2 separate regions of the Homo sapiens genome follow, and region 1 is linked to region 2. Evidence: fine-mapped expression QTL. A gene starts in region 2. The other region holds a variant in brackets. All regions are shown on one strand. Distances are from middle to middle. Region 1 overlaps IMPG2 (interphotoreceptor matrix proteoglycan 2). Region 2 holds the start of IMPG2 (interphotoreceptor matrix proteoglycan 2).

Evidence for each region.
Region 1: its variant is fine-mapped to the expression of IMPG2 in esophagus muscle (GTEx, PIP above 0.99).

Annotation. Positions count from the first base shown.
Region 1 is chr3:101,279,555-101,289,769 of GRCh38, forward strand. All of the region lies in intron 4 of IMPG2 (interphotoreceptor matrix proteoglycan 2), which reads right to left. Among named protein-coding and RNA genes, the nearest start is that of IMPG2, 36 kb to the right of the region's middle. The variant TA/T (reference allele first, on the strand shown) is at 4,341.
Region 2 is chr3:101,316,042-101,326,256 of GRCh38, forward strand. IMPG2 (interphotoreceptor matrix proteoglycan 2) reads right to left here and starts at 4,534. Exons shown (of 19, transcript NM_016247.4): 1 at 4,247-4,534; 2 at 3,543-3,791. The coding sequence starts at 4,331. SENP7 (SUMO specific peptidase 7) reads right to left here. Exons shown (of 24, transcript NM_020654.5): 24 at 8,164-10,039. The coding sequence ends at 9,902.

The DNA.
Region 1 (10,215 bases), 36 kb before region 2:
CTGGTTAGAGTTGCTCTATGGAGAGCAACCAGATATAAGGATCACAATAAGGCAAAGGTATGAAAGCACAACACAGCAACTCGAATAGGATGTTGCAATGAGGTAGCAGAGAAACCGGACTTCACCTGGGGTGAGTTAAATTGTCTCCGACGTCAAATCAAATTTACGCTAATTCTCTAACTAAGCAAACATTCAGAATGGAGAAGTTTACTTCAGTTGAACTAGATTTCACCTTGCTGAATTCAAAATAACATTATTTTAATAGTGATAAGTAGGAAACTCTTAGTAATTTAAATCACTTGCCTACACTCCAACTCTTAATCCCTCAACCACCCACTCTCCTTTCAAGAGACAGTAAAGAACACTTAACAACAAGAATCCTTTTACATGTTTTCATTAAGTATTCCCCCTGCAGAGATCCTTTAAAATGTCACTCACCACAGCACTGGAACACAGAGGTGTATTGAGCTTGGAAAGAGAAATACTACTTAATTTCTAAGTCAAACCACAAAGTTGAAGCTGTTCAGCTAAGATCTTTAGCTTAATACTAATAACATACAACCCCTTACTATCTCCTCTCCTCATTTCATCCAGCACATTATTCATTCTTCACCACTACTACCTAATCATGTCAATGGAATTCAGGTGGGATCATGTCAACAGCTGCTCATAGCCACATAGAACATATATTTAAAGACATTGTAAAACAAGCCAAGCACAGGTTCATATGCAGATTCCTGCTCCCCTTGATATCTTCTATACTTTGCTTTGCTCTCGAATATGTTACTATAATCACATGTGACCACAAAAGAACTCAAAGAAAGGAGTTAAGAAACCTGAGTGCTAGTCCTAGATGTATCATTAACTTTGTGTATGATTTAGGGAAATACCTTAGTTGCTCTGGGCCTCAAAAACTTACCCTTTAAAACAAGAACACCTCCACGTCTGCCTATTTCAAGAAGGTGTTGACAAAAATTAAATAAAATATTATATGCAGAAGCATCAGAAAAAGTATGAAATGCTAAACAAATATAAAACAGGGGTTAATGGGACAGTGACATATATCATCCCAAACAGAATAAAACATTTGCTGAAAATATATATATATAGGCCAGGCACAGTGGCTCATGCCTGTAATCACAGCACTTTGGGAGGCCGAGGTGGACGGATCACCTGAGGTCAGGAGTTCGAAACCAGCCTGGCCAACATGGCGAAACCCCATCTCTACTAAAAAACATACAAAAATTAGCCGGGCATAGTGGCACATGCCTGTAATCCCAGCTACTCGGGAGGCTGAGGCAGGAGAATCGCTTGAACGTCAGAGGTGGAGGTTGCAGTGGGCTGAGATCGGGCCACTGCACTCCAGCCTGGGTGACAGAGCGAGACTGTTGCAAAAAAAAAAAATTATATATATATAGTGATCCATGATGGGTATTCTCAACTACAATTCTCAACTACAAATGTAAATTAATTGAGACACACACACACACAATCCCAAAGAGCAGTCCTTATACTGAGAATATCACCAGAGACCTGATAATAGACTTGGGTGATTAGGTAGAAATTCTGTTATTAATTTAACAAATATTTAGTAAGCACATATCCTAGGATGAGCCTTGCACTCGTTATTGGGGATGTAACCGTAAAACCAGATGGCAGGAGTTTAAGGAGTGATTGGAGCTAAGTGGACATTCTTTCAAGATGTCTGGCTATAATGGAGATAAATGCGGGCTGTTTTAAAAATAGGTAACATGAGAGGGACTTCAGCATGTTTAAATACTAATGGGAAAGAGTTAGTAAAGAAGGAAGTTGGAGACTCAGGAGAAAGAGAGAAACAATGACAGGCAGAGGTTTCTAAGAGGAAAGACAGAATTTAAGGTCCTGAATACAGGCAGAAAATGTTCTTTTTAAGAGTTGGCAACTGATAGCAGGAGATGTTTAAAATAGGATATAGCAGAGTATTTGGTGCAAGACATACATTAGCAGATGTATTAGAGTTTGCATAGAGGTCTGCAATTTAAATTACAGAGAATTGTGATTGGCAGAATACTAGCCTCCCAAAGAGGGCCATATCTTAATTCCCAGAGAGGGGAATTAAGGTTGCAAGTAGAATTAAGCTTGCTAATCGGCAGATCTTAAAATAGGCAGAGTATGCTGGGTTATCCAGTAGGCTCCATGTAATCACAGGGACCCTTTCATGTGGAAGAGAGAGACAGAAGAAAGTCAGAGTGACGGAATGTGAGAGAGACTCCACCGGCCATTGCTGTCTTTGAAGATGGAAGTGGGCCATGAGCCAAGAAATGTGGGTGGTCTGTAGAAGCTAGAAAAGGCAAGAAAACAGATTCTCCCCTACAGCTTCTAAAAAGGAACATAGCCATGCTGATACTTTGAGACCCAAAGGAGGCTTTTGAACTGCAGAACTATAAGATAATCTATGTTGTTTTAAGCTGCCAAGGTCAGACTAATTAGTTAAAGCAGCAGTAGAAAACTAATACAAGAATCTCTTTACACAGAGAATACAAAAATAATCTCAAAAAATTTATAAAAATAAATTTGAATAGTGGAAATGGGAGTTAATGGAGTAGTGACACATGTCATCCCAAAGAGAATAAAATATTTGCTGAAAAAAATATATATTTGGCTTTGTGGTCCATGGAAATCGTGGGCAAATAAGGGTTTTAATGGATGATGGTAATATTCAAGCGGAGAAAGATAGGCTGAGTAAATTCTTAGGCCACTCCTATGGTATCACTCCCAGTGTGAGCTAGCCCCATGTCATCCCCTTCAGCATCTCCCACAGTCGGCAGTCTCCACCCCACTTCAACCTCATCTGCCCTAGTTTCAGGCAGAATACAAATTTTTAAATTTTCAAAATTAACTTATATTTTAGTTATGTATTGTTATTTCTTTATATGCCTTATTTTCTAAGAATAGTGAATATCTTGTATCCTCTATTATTTATACCTAGTACAGGCAGTGACTTATCAATAGAGATACATGATACATACAGTCAGTTCTGCTATGCTATTTATTTGTAAATTTGTTTCAACATGATTAATATATTAAGAAACAGTTGAGCATAATACAGATTTCTCCTTTACCTATACCCAATTTCATTGTGAGAAACACTAGATGAACAAACAAAACCACCCAGATGAATAGAGACCATGTAGGAATACACCAAGCACTCTCATGCCCAACACTTCAGACATCTTCCAGCTACCTTAGTTCACCCATGAGTTATGAACCACACCTACCCTCGTATAGTGTTACAACTTTCTGTCCTTCTTCACATAACTCTCCTTCCATCACTTTACAATAATTTATAAGCTACAATCTTTCCAGTGTCCAATTTTACGAACAAATGTCAGAAATTCATCAAGGTTAAGTGACATATTTATTATGGTATTTGTGTATTTCTTAACCACATGGGACATGTAAACTGTGCCACCATTTTTATTAGTTTACTTTTTGTTTGTTTTTGAGATGGAGTCTCACTCTGTTGTTGCCCAGGCTGGAGTGCAGTGGCGCAATCTCGGCTCACTGCAACCTCTGCCTCTCAGGTTCAAGCTATTCTCCTGCCTTAGCCTCCCGAGCAGTCAGGATTACAGGTGCACGCCACCATGCCTGGCTAATTTTTTTTGTATTTTTGTAGAGACGGGATTTCACCATGTTGGCCAGGCTGGTCTTGAACTCCTGATTTCAAGTAATCTGCCTGCCTCAGCCTCCCAAAGTGCTGGGATTACAGGCGTTGAGCCACCATGCCAGCCACTAGTTTCCTTTTTTTAAAAAATGTATTGTTGACAAAGTTTTTGGGTATTGTGCCCCAACTTTATTATTCCCATTGCCCCTGTAGTTTTTATTGAGTGATTTTCAACAATTTTTAGGAAATAATATATCATGTTATAGTAGAACTAACTATATGATGAAGGTGTTTTGTTTTCATAGAAAGTTTTTGAATAAACCCCATAAATTTGTTTGTTCTAAGACTCTTTCCAACATGGTACATATATACAGAGTATACAGTAGATGGCCAGAAGCCACAGAGTAGACTTGGCTCCATTTCCAAAGCTTCCATTTTGTGTGATATTTGAGGAAATAAATCAATTTATATAAAATTTATACATACTGATATACTACATAGCAAAATACAAAAGAGTGCATGAAGTCTTAAGAAAAGGAAGTTTGGATTTGCAAAAACAAAACAAAACAAAAAACTCTGAGCTATACTGCCCATATTTTCTGCCATTGAGGACTTTGGGAGAAAAGTTTGATAAACACTGTTCTAAGCAAATGTTAAAATCCCCTTAGCTGACGAATATATAGACTAATAAGAAAAA[TA/T]AAAAATAACTCTGGCTGCTGTGTTGAAAATGTACTGTAGTTGGGAAAGGGTTAGACATGTTAAGAAGCTATTATAAGAATAAAAGATGCTGGTGGCTCATACCAGGGTGGTGGCAGTGAAGATGGTGAAAAGTGATCAGATTCGAGATATATTTTGAATCTACAGGCAACAGAATTTCTTGATGGATTGGATGTGAGGTGTGGGAGAAACGGAAATATAAAGCATGATCACAAAGTTTTGGTCTGCATGACAGACACAATAAAGTTGTCACCAATAGAAATGCAGAGTTAATTGGGTTGGGGGCATGGGAGAACCAGGAGTTCAGTTGTGGATGTGTTGAGTTTGAAATGTCTACTTGACATTCACATAGAGATGTCATCATAAATGAGTTGTCTTCCATCTTCTCAGTTTATAGATAAAAAACATTGCATCAGATTGTTTGAGTCATTTATCCAAAATCAAAGTAGCCAGGTAGAGGCAAAAAGAAAAAGTCTCTTGATGCCCAGTCCAGTGCTCTTCTTAGTAAACCTTCCCAGAGAGTAGAGAACTTTCCAGTAAAAGAGACTCATTGTTTTAATGAATCCAATGAATCAATATTTTTATTGGTAAACAAATTCTAATATTCAATTCAAGAAACTAAATCAAGATTTATTTATCAATATGAACAACAAAAAAAAACAAAATCATTTGAATGGCAAAAGGAGAATGCATAAATATCCTTAGTAGGTATTAAACAAACAAATTCATGTATATTTAGGACAGACTCAAAATCTGTGCCTAGCAGTTTCTAAAAGAAGTAATATTCCTTGTCCTAGCTGTGCACACAGGATTTCAATGCACTTCCAATGCCATCTGCTTACTGTAGTTACCATCATCTCCTGCAGCACAAGTTTGAGAGGGCCAGAGTCAGAGTAGGCTTAATATTTGTCTCTATGTCTGAGATATTTCATAATTTAACCTTTTTTTTAAAGAAACAAAACTGTAAAAAAAATAGAACCATTACTGAATTCTTGCTTTCTAATAAACCACAACCATCAAATTAGTTAACTTTCCTTTTGCTGACATTGCTAGAATGTCCCAGAGACTGTTAACTAATTTGATAGCTCCATTTTTCTGTCACTTAACGACTGGAATTGTAAACAAGTCTCATTAAGTTTTGTGAACTCAGAGAATTTCATCCTGTAAAAATTTCATAGGGTAATTGTGACAATTAAATGTAAAAAATCTTGTTAAAATGTAAAGCTCTATATGTCTATAAATGCAGATGTGTAAGGGATGATGGTAGGGTTGGAGATATGTCATCTCATAAGAGGTCAGGGAGTAACACCACTATCCATTCCTCTACTGGTCCATCTTTGCCCCAAGAGTACTGCCAGTGTGCACCAAAAGGATAATGCTGCGCTAGGCCACATCCCTGACAGAAAGACACACAGGGATCAGTACATTCTGCCCCTACTCTCACTGAATGTGCTACAGACACAGAAAGACATAGACTTCCTGCTCTTCTAGGAATCCTATTCTTGATCATTTGATGTTTTCCTAAAGCCTGAGAAACAGGTATTTTTATTTAAAGTGAAACAACCAAGATTTAGCACAAGTTGTTGATAAGAGAAACACTAAAATTTCAATATCTCTCCTGTCTACAGCTCTGTCTCTCTCATATACTGCCTTATTGCATGGACTCACAGCCAGGCCACATGGTACGTATTCAATATGCTGACAACTGATGGTTTGAGAAACATTATCATGGAGAAGTCTGTCTAATATAAAGTAGTTACTTTCTAAATCTTTCTTCATTTGAAGTTAGTGCCTTTGAATTTCAGCAGATATGATTTTGAAATTGGTACAAATATCTACAGAAAAGTTCATTATATCATTTTTAATTTTAAATTTTTATAAATTTTGGTAGATTTACGGGGTACAAGTGCCATTTTGTAACATGGATACATGGTGTAGTGATGAAGTCTGGGCTTTTAGTATGTAAATTATAGAAACCATTTAAATACTTCTTTTCATTCTTCATGTTTGTCTTTCTCATTCACACACATATATGTACAACAAAGAAAACTGATTTTTTAATCTCTGAATGATGTAAAATATCCTAATAATTTAAATACATATGCATTATAGCATAGGGGTTGAATACTGGCTTTGTGACCTTGGACAAGTCCCTTAAATTCTCTACGCCATAATTTCCTTCTCTTTAAGAGAAGGATAATATTAATACCTACCTCATTATATTGTTCAGAGGATTAAGTAAATTAATACAAGTAATAAAGTACCTAGAACAATGTCTGGCCTATAACTAATACATTAGTATTAGCTAATATTTTTAATTTTATTAAAATGACTCTAATTAGGTGATTATTGAGTATGGTTATTCTAAAACATTTAAAAGGGCAAATATCATTGTCCATTCTTGTGAGTAAGAAGCTTTTTACAATATTCTAAGTAACTGCTGATATGTTAGTATTTTTAGTTATTAGGCCCAGATTTACAGTGAAATGGCATGCTTCAATATCCAATCTAGAAAAATAAATTATGGTCTACCTCTTATAGTGGTCTACCATGAAGTCTACCAGCCTAATTCTATGACAAGATAATGAAGAAAAAGTCTCATCTCTCTTCCCCTTGGCATCTTTATGATGTTTTAACATTCAAGTGCATATCAGTACTTTGAATGCTTGGAAATTATACTGCCTCAACATTTGTAGATATATGTACTCACACTATATATGCCTCGCATTACCAGTCTAGCTTCCGATGGCATGTGCTGCATTATAGGCTAGTTCTCATGATGGAAAACCTTCTCTTCACATGAGCAGAATCATTCTACCTTCTCTGTAAAAATTCCTCTTGGGAGTTGGGATGGTGAAGGAGAGAATGAAGGTGTTTGTTTCCAGCTGATGCACAGAAAGATGGGACAGTTTGAATCAGCAGGCAGGAGAACCCAAGGAAATGAATGAGATGATCAATTTGGGGCAGCTCCAGAGAAAACCCATTATGCTTTAGCCAATTAACAGACTTTCATTCATTTCCCCTCCTTCTCTAATCACCTCCTAGTAGTTGTGAATGAGGTGCACTGTGATCAGGTATTTATTAGTTGATACATTATGCAAGAAATAAATCTCTTAGCAGGAAAAAAGCACAGATCTAAATTTTTCCTCTTTGAATGATGAAATCCAGTAAGGTCTGAAGTTAGGTTTTCAGGAATATTGTGTTACTGTCAGGGTATAGTAACACAGAATCTATTGGAACAAAATGTACTTAGCTTGTAACCATGATTAATTAATATGGAAACATAGCCTTTGCAAAATTTACAGTGTGGCAACCTTGGCCACACCCAAAGCTGAATCAATCAAAAGAGTCTCATGCTCATGGATTGGAAGAATCAATGTCATTAAAATGACCATACTGCCCAAAGCAATTTACAGATTCAATGCTATTCCTATCATACTAGCAATGTCATTCTTCACAGAATTAGAAAAAGCTACTTTAAAATTCATGTGGAACCAAAAAAGAGCCTGAATAGCCAAAGTATCCTAAGCAAAAAGAACAAAGCCAGAGGCATCACACTATCCAACTTCCAACCACACTATAAGGCTACAGTAACCAAAACAGAATGGTACTGGTACAAAAACAGACAAATAGACCAATGGAACAGGATAGAAAACTCAGAAATAAAGCTTCACATCTACAACCAACTGATCTTCAACAAGTCTGACAAAAATGAACAATGGGGAAAGGACTTCCCATTCAATAAATGCTGCTGGGATAACTGGCTAGCCATATGTAGAATAAAAAAAACTGGAACCCTACCTTTTATCATATACCAAAATTAACTAAAAATTGATTAAATATTTAAATGTAAGACCTCAAACTATAAAAATTCTAGAAGAAAACTTAGAAAATATCTTTTTCAACATTGGCCTTGGCAAAGAATTTATGGCCAAGCCCCCAAAAGCAATTGCAACAAAAACAAAAATTGACAAGTGGGACTTCATTAAACTAAAGAGCTTTTGCACAGCAAAATAAACTATCAACATACTAAACAGACAACCTACAGAATGGGAGAAAATATTCACAAACTAGGCATCTGACAAAGGTCTAATATCAAGAATCTATAGGGAATTTAAACAATTCAACCAGCAAAAAGCAAATAACCCCATTAAAAAGTAGGCAAAGGAAAAGACACTTCTCAAAAGAAGACATACATGAGGTCAATATATGAAAAAATGCTCAGCATCAGTAACACTCAGGGAAATGCAAATCAAAACTACAATGAAATACCATCTCACACCAGTCAGAATGGCTACTAAAAAGTGAGAAAATAACAGATGTTGATGAGGTTGCAGAGAAAAAGAAATGCTTATATACTATTAGTAGGAATGTAAATTAGTTCAGCCACTGTGAAAGCAGTTTGGAGATTTCTCAAAGAACTTAAAACAGAGCTACCATTCAAACCAGCAATCCCATATCATTATATCAAAAAGCCACATGCACTCATATGTTCATCATTAGCTATTCATAACAGCAAAAACATGGAATCAATCGAGGTGCCCATCAATGGTGGATTGGATGAAGAAAATATGGTACATATACACCATGGAATACTATGCAGCGATGAAAAAGAATGAACTCATGTCCTTTGCAGCAACTTGGATGGAATTGGAGGCCATAATCCTAAGTGAATTAATGTAGGAACAGAAAGCCAAATACTGCATGTTCTCACTTATAAGTGAGAGGTAAACATTGAGCATATATGGATATAAACATAGGAACAATAGACACTGTGGACTACTAGAAGGCGGGTAGGTGTGGGTTGAAAAACTACATATTGGGTACTATGCTCACTACCTGGGTCCAATATACCCATGTAACAATCCTACACATGTATCCTTAATATCTAAAATAACAGCTAAATTTTTTAAGTCATCCTTTCGAATTGATTTCTCTTCCCTCTCTCTATGTATGGGTGTGTGTGCACATATGCTACACTACGAACACAAGTATGTTTTGATATTGGTCTGATTGGTTAAACAAAGTCAACCAAAGCAATATAAACTGTACATATTAAGATTATACTACATACACGCTTGGTGCTAGTTAATGTAGAGCTTACAACAAATCCTAAAACACAGTTCATTTCCTCAAGAATGTTACCTATTAGGGTTACAAAAATGAGTAAGATACTTTTTTTATTCATTCATCAGGATCCTACAGAAACCTGCTAAAGGCTACATGGTAGGTTTTTCAAGAAGAGTCAGGCTTTAGGTATTTTGTGCAATTACTGATTTTATTCATATTTTGGATTCCTGTAAGGGTATTACTAACTTAGGTTTTTGGTTGTTGTTATTGTAATAATTAAGTGAGGTGACATATTTTACACAGTAAAAGGCAGTATTAATAGAGGTTAAAAATCAGATGCTTAAGAATCAAATGACCTGGATTACCTTGAGTTATTTAAACTCTAATACTGCTTCTTCATCTATCAAATAAAGATAGTAAAAGTACATAATTCAGAGGGCTAAACTCAGAGGATTAAATAAATTAATACATGTAAAATATCTAGTATACTGTAAGCAATCAATAAATGTTAAAATGCTATTACATGTTTGATAATGTTAGTCAGGCAACAAATATGGAAATATAATGGCTCAAGGGTACTCTAAAAAACTATGGCTGAACCATAGAGTTTGAGAAGGAAACTGAGACAGATGAGGCTGGGCACAGGCCTAACTGTGAAGAGCCTTGCGGGTCATGTTAATTTTGATCTTAAAAGCAATGAGGAACTATTAAATTGTCTTACAGAGGAGAGGCACATGATCAAATTTATTCTTTTGAAGATTTCTGGCCAGGGTGGAGAGGAGGGC
Region 2 (10,215 bases):
ATGGTATTGGAACAATTAGCTATGCATATAAAAATATTAACTTTGATCCATATGTCATAATCAAAAATTAAAGAAGATTACAGTTTTAAGTCTAGAACCTAAAAACTGTAAAAATTCTACAGGAAAAGACTGAGAAAGAAAAAACTTTGTGATCTTGGGTTAGCAAACTAAGATCAAAAACTAAAAGGATGCTCCCCCAAAAAGCCTGATAAATTTGACTTTATCAAATGTTAAAACTTCTGCTCCTTAAAATACATCATCAAGAAAATAGAAAAGGCAAGCTACAGATTGCAAGAAAAATGTATGCAAAATATATGTTTGACAAAGAACTTAAATTTAGAACACATTAAGAACTATTACAACTCAATAATAGACAAGCAACCCATTTTTTAATGGGCAAAATATTCAAATAGACTCCTCACTAAAAAAAGATATATAAATGACAGATAATTATGTAAAAAAAATGCTCAAAATTGTTAGTCATAAGTGGTTAGGAAAATGCAAATTAATACCACAATAAGATATACATCCACTGGAATGGCTAAAGTTAAAAAAGACCAACTATACCAAGTGTTGAGAGGATGTGAAGAAAACGGAATCCTACTACACTGTTGGTGATACAGTCATATTGGAAAACTTGACAATTTACTGGAAAGTTAAACGTATACCTATCACGTGACCCAGACGTTCCACTATTATTACTCAATAGAAATGAAAATATGTTCACAGAAAAACTTGTACCCAAATGACCATAATTTCTTTTCTTGTAATCAGTAATAACTAAAAACAACCCAAATATCCCATATTGTGGTATATCCGTAATATAGAATACTACCCAACAATAAAAGCTAACAAACTATTGATACACAAAACACATGCATAAATTTCAAAATAATTACACTGAGTAAAAGAAACCAGACCAAAAAAAGAGTATATACCAAAGAGTATATTCCATTTATATATAAAAGTATAGAAAATGCAAACTAATACATAGCGATAGAAAGCAAATTCATGGTTGCCTCAGTATTGGGGTAAGGAGAGGTAGTGAGGGAGGTGGGCATTATAAATGGTCATGAAGAAATGTTTAAGAGTGATTGATAGGTTTATTATCTTAACTATAATGATGGTTTCAAGGGTAAATTCGTCAAAACTAATGAAATGGTATACTTTAAATATATGCAGGCTGTATTTCATTAAAATATACCTCAATAAAGCTATATTTTAAAAAGTCCAACAACGAATATTTTTTTTAAAAAAGAGAGGGGCATCCTAGTATGCTGTTTAATTTTACAAAACATTAGGTTAAATATAGTTGTGTCTTGCTTAGAAACACTTTTCAAATTTGTTACAACAACTAGCAATTGATACCAAATTCTCTATGAAGGAAAAATTGAGCAAACCATTAGACTGAATTAGCTTGGTAGAAAGAGCTAAGATCCTTAATTGGATATTGAATAACTCCCTCCCTCTAAATTGCAAACATTTGGTGTTAAGGGCATAATACAAATTATCTCTTCAAAATCAAGCAAGACCTATGTTAAAATACTCATTTCTGTCAATTTTTAAAAACAAATGAAATATTTATTCTTTACCATGACCATAACAGCTATCTCAGCTATAATCTTGATGTGGTGTGCCAACCATCTTAGCTGTATGAGATCCCTTTTCAAGGATCCTATTCATAGCATCTGTATTTTAAAATCAATTATTCTAGGAATGCTTTATGTTCATTTTTGTCAGCTTCTTTTTCAACAGTATCTCTTGAATTTATAAAAACAAGAGCAAAGCAATCAAAAGGTATGACCAAATCCCTTACATGATTGGTTATTTCCTCTTCACTATTTAATCAGTTCCCAAAATACCAAGATATTCTTATTTTAAAATAATATAAAGTACGGTGAGACCCCATCTCTACCAAAAACACAAAAAAACAAAACAAAAAAAACTAGCTGGGCATGGTGGCATGTGCCTGTAATCCCAGCTACTTGGGAGGCTAAGGCAGGAGAATCACTTGAACCCAGGAGGTGGAGGGTGCAGTGAGCCGAGATCATGCCACTGCACTCCAGCCTGGGCGACAGAATGTGAGTATGTCCCAAAAAATAGTAATAAATAATAATAATAATAATAATAATAATAATAATAATAATATAAAGTAAAAATCCAGGTGGTAGAAATCGAATCTTGATAAATTATTAACTGTCATCCTCATTCACCTTCAGTTCCTTTATTCTCTTCCCACTGTCTTTGGAATTTTCCATTTCTGGCATATGGCCTATACTCAAAATGCCAGGTCTGTGGATCTCCATTTAAAAAGTAAAAGGAAAGCTTATTGCATAGTAATATTTGATAGCTCCCAAATACAATCAAGAAATAGAAATACACTCATAACAAAGAGCTGCCAATATACATTGTACTACTTTAACAAAAATATCAAATATATAAATATGTGTAATAGCTGGTATTATATTAAATTTTTATTGTGTTTTTAAAACTTTGATGAGAAGGGAAGAAGGGAAGGACAGGAAGAGGAAAAGAAGATAAAGTAGCAGCTCAGACAGAAGGTTCATATAATCCAGTGCCTGGAAAATTCGGGCTCAATAAACATTTGTTGAATGAATTAATGAATAAATGCATGAATTTAAAAGCCTCATTTTACAATCACTTCATCATCTAATTTCACCTTGTTTACTAACATCACATCCATATTATGGCTTTTTATTGGTTCTTGAGCAGTAAAAAGCAAAGTTTGGGAATCCTTCAAATGTCTAAGGGACATACTAAGGTCAATTAAGCAATTTAGTAAATATATGAGAAACAGAATTGACTTACATAAAAAGTATGAGATCAAGAATACTGTTTAAAGACAAAATAAAATGTGAGATTTTGAGAAATGCCATCATTTTAGATGTGAAAATTTTATGTGTACCAACTAGAGAGCAACCTGTGTGAATCTGCAGAATATCTAAACTATAAAATATAGAAACATTATATTTGTATATATAATAACTATTAATAAATAGGCAAGCAGGTGAGTATACTTTGGTAAAGCTATTTTGTGGGTATACTTAGGCATTTACTGTAATGAAGAAGTAAAAATTAAAATTAATGTAGCCCAAAACATAAACTGGTATTTTTGAAGTGCTTAAAAAGATTTAAGACATTTCCTCTCTGAATATGTTGTTGAAATTAATGAAAGACATCTTATTGTGACTGCCCTCATGTGAAAAAAGTTTCTTACATAACGCACCAAAAGCTACAAACTCAAATCATGAAAGCGTTCTTCCTTTGGTTCAAAGTGCATGTCATTATTAAATGATATTATTGCCTTAACTGGAGGGCACTGGAAAAAAAACAAACCTCCTCTCTTAATGTAAACTGTTCTCTGAAGTTACCATTAACACTATATTCTTAGCAGTAGAAAGGTAGTTTTGGCTCAGTCCTGTCTAAATTATCGTAAATTTTGATTTACAATGTTACCTAACAAATGATTAAACTATGTTTGAATTTCATTATGGAGCTGAAGGATTTGGATGTTCGCTTACCTCGGACTTTAAAATACTTCACATGATTTGCCACAGCCTCTGCAACACTTTCATCTGGGCAGATTTTCACTCCATTAGGAAACAGAATAGATCTCCGCCTTCTGATTAACCACTGTCTTTCAGTTTCTCTGCGGTCCAGAGGCTGTTTCTTTTTGGTAGCTAGAGAAAGGTCTGTTGATTCTTCAGGCAGGAGAAAAGAAACTGCACTCTTGGGTTCTTGGATCTCCTCTATAGATAAGTAGGTTTGTGCTACAGAGTGAAAGTATAGTCAAGTCTTCGATAATGAAGATACAGTACAAAAGGTAACAACTAAAGAAAAACTGACACTTGGGCTACATTAAGATAGAGAAGCCAGTGCCCAAATCATAGGCAGGCATGCATATCTAAGGAAAAGAGGAGTGAGGCAGTCCATCTTTTTCCATTTAACTCCCACTCCTTTCATTCAAGATTGTTATCAAAATCAAGTAAATACACATCCAATTTCAACAAAATAAATAAAAGTAAGGTTTAAACCAGAAATTACTAATGAGGGAAAACCAAAATTATTGGAGATATTTTAAAACGGTTTAAATGAAGCCATATCAAAGATTAATAAAGTAGTATTTGATTCCATTTCTTACAGCAATCACATCAAATAATCCTATTTTTGAAGAACATATACTACAGATATGGAAAGATAAAAACAAATGTAGATTTTTAAATACCTGTTAATGATGGAAAGTCTCCTTCTATCAGGACAAATATCAAAATACCCAGAGAAATCTTCCCAAAAAGAGGAAACATAATCATTTGGGCCAAAACCAAAGGAATGAGGAGAGGACAGAATCCTTAATTGAGTGTCCAAATCCTTGAAACTTCCAATAACAAAGAGTTATAGGAAAGACCTAACATTTAAAAGTCTATGTTTGAGAATGAACAACCACTTCAAAACCATTATAAATTAGCGGAAAGAAAAATGGTTGTCCTTTCAAAGTAGCTCTCACTTCTTTTCTGAAATAACCAGCATGCTATAAAAGCTGGTGAGATAAGCTAATTAGAGCAGATGGAGAGAGACAATTTCTTTATTCTAATCTACCTAAGCTCTTTACTAACACTCTCCTTGCCTTTAACAAGCAGTCCACTAAGAATAATGTGTTTCACATATAATTCACTGATTTTTCCAACTTTTCTGAATCTGTTAGTTCTGGGTTTTCCTAGGGACTAAGATGTATAAGCATAAAAAGTCCAGACTGACTATATCTACCTATTTCAATAATACAGAGCTACGTACAAATTTAGTTTTTGTAATGAAACTATTCTCTTGCAAATTTCCTTCCTTGATAGAAAAATCACTTACTTTGTCTCCTTCCTTACGTATAAAATGGAATAGAAATAGTAAACTCATGGTAGAGCTAATGTGAGGATTAAATTAACTAATTAACTAATTCAATCTTCACTTTGCTTAGAGTAGTGCCCGGAACATATTAAGCACTTAATATAAATGATAGCTGTGCGATAACTTTGTTGCTTAATTTGCCATTAAATGTGAGGCCCAGTGTGTTTATCTACATGAGGAACTCTTAACCAAGAAAACATTTTCCCTGCAGATGAAATTCTCTATATTAGAACAGTTTTTTAAATCAAGTAAACCTAGTAGAAAGCAATTCATCAGAATCCCTGTGGAAGCTTGGATTTACTATCAAATAGCAATGAAATTATATTTTATTTCATGTTATCTCTGGCAAAATTCTCTGAAAAAAAGTGTATTGTAAAGATCTAAACCACATTCCTCTTGAGAATCCTTGACTAATTGTGTTAGCTAAATCACCCTCAATGTTATTTTATGCTTTAGGAAAAGCTCAAGTATATTTTTTCAATACAGCCTCAAATAAACCACATTTTCAGCCTTTATAAAAGCTAATAAACCTAAATGACCATTAAATATATTTGCATAGTTGTATTTGCAAAATACTGGTAAGCTTATAAGAAACTTACTTGCCAAATTTATTGTATGAGTAGGAGAAAAAAGCCGAAAATTTTATTAGCTGAGTCAAAGTTTAATCTTAAGAAAAGCTTCATATTGACAATTCAGAACAAGGGACAACTCTTAGGTAACAAATATTAGTTGGCAATTATTCTTTTTGACAGCCTTGACCAAAAAGCTAAAAAAAACTTCTGAGAATCATAGTAATCTAGAAAGATTCCTGTATTTAGATTGAGAAACCCTGGACTCAAATCTTGGTTTTATCACTTAATATTTGATTTTGGTAAATAACCTAAGCTCTTTGAGCCGGTTTACTCACCAAAGAAATTACATGTGATAATCTCTACCTGTATCACAGGGTCGTTGTTAAGAATTAAGAGACATGAAAGTTCTCTGTAAACTACTGTATTTGTATTACCAGTAAACTTTGTAAATAGGAATTGTTTTGTATTACAAGTGTTCACAGAGTCCAAACATGTTTCAAGCTTTGAAATTCTATTTTGCTCAAGCTCCAAAATAAATTTTCCATTAACTTATATTTCAAACAGAGAATTCACATAAAAACTTCTTAAACATTTATTATATTATGTTCTATAAAATATAGTTGGTATAATTTCAGAAACCTGTACTTTAAAAAAAGAAATATAAGAAATTAGATGGGTTCATTTGTTTCTAAATATGGTCATCATTTTACAAATTCAATTTAACTTGACATTTATTTGTAACTTTTAACTGTAACTTTGTATCTATGATACAAAGCAGGTGATGCCCGCTATTAAGTTTGTGTCATAGGAATCCAAAAGCAAGAGTAACTCCAACTAGAAAAAGCAAGAGGGTGTGGGGGAAGCAGGAGGCGGGTATTTCAGCTGCGCCTTGAATGGCCTACTTGGCATTTCAGTATTTTAGTGGGCAGAAGTAAGGATTGTTAGTGGGAAGAACTAAGAGTTAGGAGAGAAATCCCTCGTCGTGATCAATAAAGTGGAAAAGTATACTGTTTATAAAGAAAATAGGAAGATATTTGCTGGAGCACGCAAGATAGGAGCATACAGCAAATACGTTGGGAATGAAGGCTGAAAAGTTGAGATTGATTATGGAATACCTTCAAAGTTTTAGCAAGAATTTTGGATTTTTACCTACAGATGAAACATTGTCTCTCTAATGTTTAATTACTCAAAAAAGTATATTCTTTGAGTTTTTATTTAAGGAGATTCTTTTTAGGTAATATTTCACAATCTCATAGGATGGTCCTTGAATCTTTTTATGCTTCAAGAAATGTCCCAGAATCATAAGCATATGAGAAACTAAACATAAAACTCTGTGCTTTAGAGACAACAAATACAGATTCCTTCATCTAAACTTAATTACAAATAAGTCAAGGATCATTTATTGACTCAACAAAATTTTCTGAGTGTTTACTATATGCTAGTAAGATACTTAATATCAGAAATGGAAAAATGCTTCCAGTCTTTGAGGAGCTTACAGTCTAAGGAGAAAAACGTGTATACAAATAATATAAAACAGTAATTAGAGAAGTATATACAAATTGCTATAGGGGAGCAGGAGGGGGAATGAACTATTGTTTGAGTAGGTGTAGGGGTGGTAACATTTACATTCAACTTTGAAAAAATAAAGTTCACAAGAAGTGGTGAAAAGGTATGGAGGTACAATGTCACAACCCCCACTCCACACAAGCATCTATAGTCTTGGGTTCAAAGTGATATTCACACTCATGGGACAACAGTCCAAAATGTGGCTCCAGGCTTACTTTGTAGAAAAATATGGCACAGCAAACAGTGTTATAATAATAATTTCAAGTGAAGTACATCTTCATCTGGAATCTTTATAAGAGCCCTGATTTCTCCAGCCCCCAAGAAGGATGCACTAAGTTGTAACAGAAGAGACCACCTGGGTGGGAGCAGGCCACAGAAGCAGACAGAAGCCTCATACACACAGAACTATGCCTCTTAACAACGCATGGGCAGTTTCCAAATTTCCACAAGGACAAGTTTAGTTACAAGAGACCGCAGAGGAAGTACCTAAATACATGAACGAATAATTTTATACAACTGCAAAAGTAGAGGACAATGGAAAGATAAGAATAGGATATAGGCTGGAACAAGATTAAGGATGGGCTCTATAGGCCAAGTCTAAACCTATTTTTCCTCTTGGCATAAAAAAGTTGATTTCAAAAGGTATTAAACTTTTTTAAACTCCTAATTAGGTGATTGGATATGATTTAAATAACTTCTTTTTTTAACATCCCAAGAGCTGTGAAATTAAAATAATATTATCTTCTCTAGGAAGGCTTGCTTTGTTCACTAACAACCCTCTCTCTACCTCTCTACCTCCTCACTAACATACACACACACACACACACACACACACACACACACACACACACACCCCTCTAGGCTGAGCTCCCTCCTGCATTCCCAAAGAAACTCTATGGTTGTTCTTACCAGAAAATATTTAAAATGTTCACATGTCCATAAATGACTCAGGAACAAATATCATTCATTTTTTGTGCCTAGCAAAATGCCTGCTAGTAGTAGAAGCTAAAATAATTTCCCTGAACTGAAATGACACTCAAATAAACTATATGCTTTTAAAATATGAAGAATAATTAATATAAGCATCAATTTCATGATATACACAGAGCAGCATACAACTGGAAATTTATTTCTAACAGTAGCTCATGTTTCTTAAGGAAAAAAATTACACCTCAATTTAATGAATTGGAAATATGTTTAATATAAAACACTGATATCCTCAAAACATTACTTGCACATTAATTTAGGAAAATGAATTTTAAACAATCTTCAAAACATGATAAAGGACAGTGATATCTTTGAAAAACATACAAACAAAAACATTAAGAAATCACAAGATGTCTTATAGACTTGCTTTCCCAAAATTAGATGTACAAAACAATAGTCACCTTTAAAAGTACCCCCCAACACACACAAATTGGGAATGAAATATGTAATTATAGCCATCTTTATATGAAATATCCAAACAACAAATATATTTAATAATATAAAGATAGTGCCAAAATCAACAAAAGCTAAGAATACTGAGGCTTAACTGACCCCGATTCGTATGATTTTGAAATAAAATGTTCAGACTTTCTAGCTTTATCTTAATTTGCCTTTGCTTCACTGCTTTATGTAGTTATAATGTAAATCTAAGAGATGCTTAAAACAGATTAAAATAATATTGTTAAAAAACATTTTTCTTATCTGAGAAAATACAATATAATCATATCTCCCTCAAAATACTCCTGATAACATTAGAAAGTTCTGAAGTGTTTAATCATATATAATGCCACCATTATCACATGAATTCAGAACTGTTACCTGAATATTTAATAAAAAATTAAGTTCCATGAGGATCATAGGTCTCTAAAAGCTACAATTTAAAAATATAAAAGCAATGAGAGCAATCTGGCTTTGCAGATGAATACTGGGTAAACTGAGCTATAAAATTATATATTTAATTCTACCCATTAATAAATAGGACTGAGGGTTTTCTTTGTTAAAGTTATGAGGACACCAATTTTATCTTCTATATTAGAGAAACTATACATAAATTCCGTGATAATGTGAGTGAATATTTATATAGCAGTACCTCAAGTTGAGCTACATGTATAATTTTTAAAAAACTATTTTGCACAGGTAAAATTTTTTGTTTCAAATTTTACCCTGAACAAATGAACTAAATTATAAGATACTCACATATGACATCAAAAGAAATGAAAAAAAAAAAGCAGAGTAATCGTATTTAGCAATTGAGAATAATAAGCTGCACTTTAAAAGAGCGAATTTTTATCATCTTCCTAACATTATGAATGTCTTTTTGTTACATACAGAAGGGATGCCGTAAATGGCATTTTCTGAAGCCTTGATACTAAATTATTTTTTTAAAAAATACACAGTATTCATACTGCATGCTTGAGCTGCAAAGAATAGAATTACAATATGATGTGACCTGTCAGCAAATTTGACAAGCACTGGGGCTGGCACCAGGGAGGCTTTAACTCCCCTCAGCACCCAGTCACGTGGAAGTACAGATCATGTAAGTTTTATTATCTACAAAACATTCCCATATTACATATGCTGTTGCATAATCCAATCATATTTACTCAGAAAAATATGAAATATTTATAAAATTTTAATTTATATCTAGTAAGTTTATCTATATCACCCCCATTCCCATTCCATCTATGAGATCCCAACAATTCTAATAATGTGTCCTACATATTTTAAATAATGTTCCAATGACTTATTATAAAACTACTGCAAGTTATTTTCTTCTCTGTGAGCTGGCTAACACAAATGCTGGTAAGAGGCTTTCCAGTAATCTTAGAGAACATCTGTGTCATGTTTGTACAGATTAACTAGCTACTGCTGCCCTTCTGTTGCTGTAAATGAAGTTTCAAGATGAGCTCTCGAATATCTTCCCGTTTGGTCTTTATTACATGACGAGGAAACCACTTCTCCAAATGAATTGGAAGTTCAAAGTTAACAATAGGATCCTAATGAGAGGAAAAAAAGAGTGTAATCACTTTAGCAGCATAATTTCAAATTTGTTTTAATTTCATTTTTATAAGAAATGACAAATTGCTAACTTTTTTAAAATAACAATTATATTAAGATATAATTCACATAATACAATTCACCAATAGCATACAATTAAGCATTTTTAGTATAT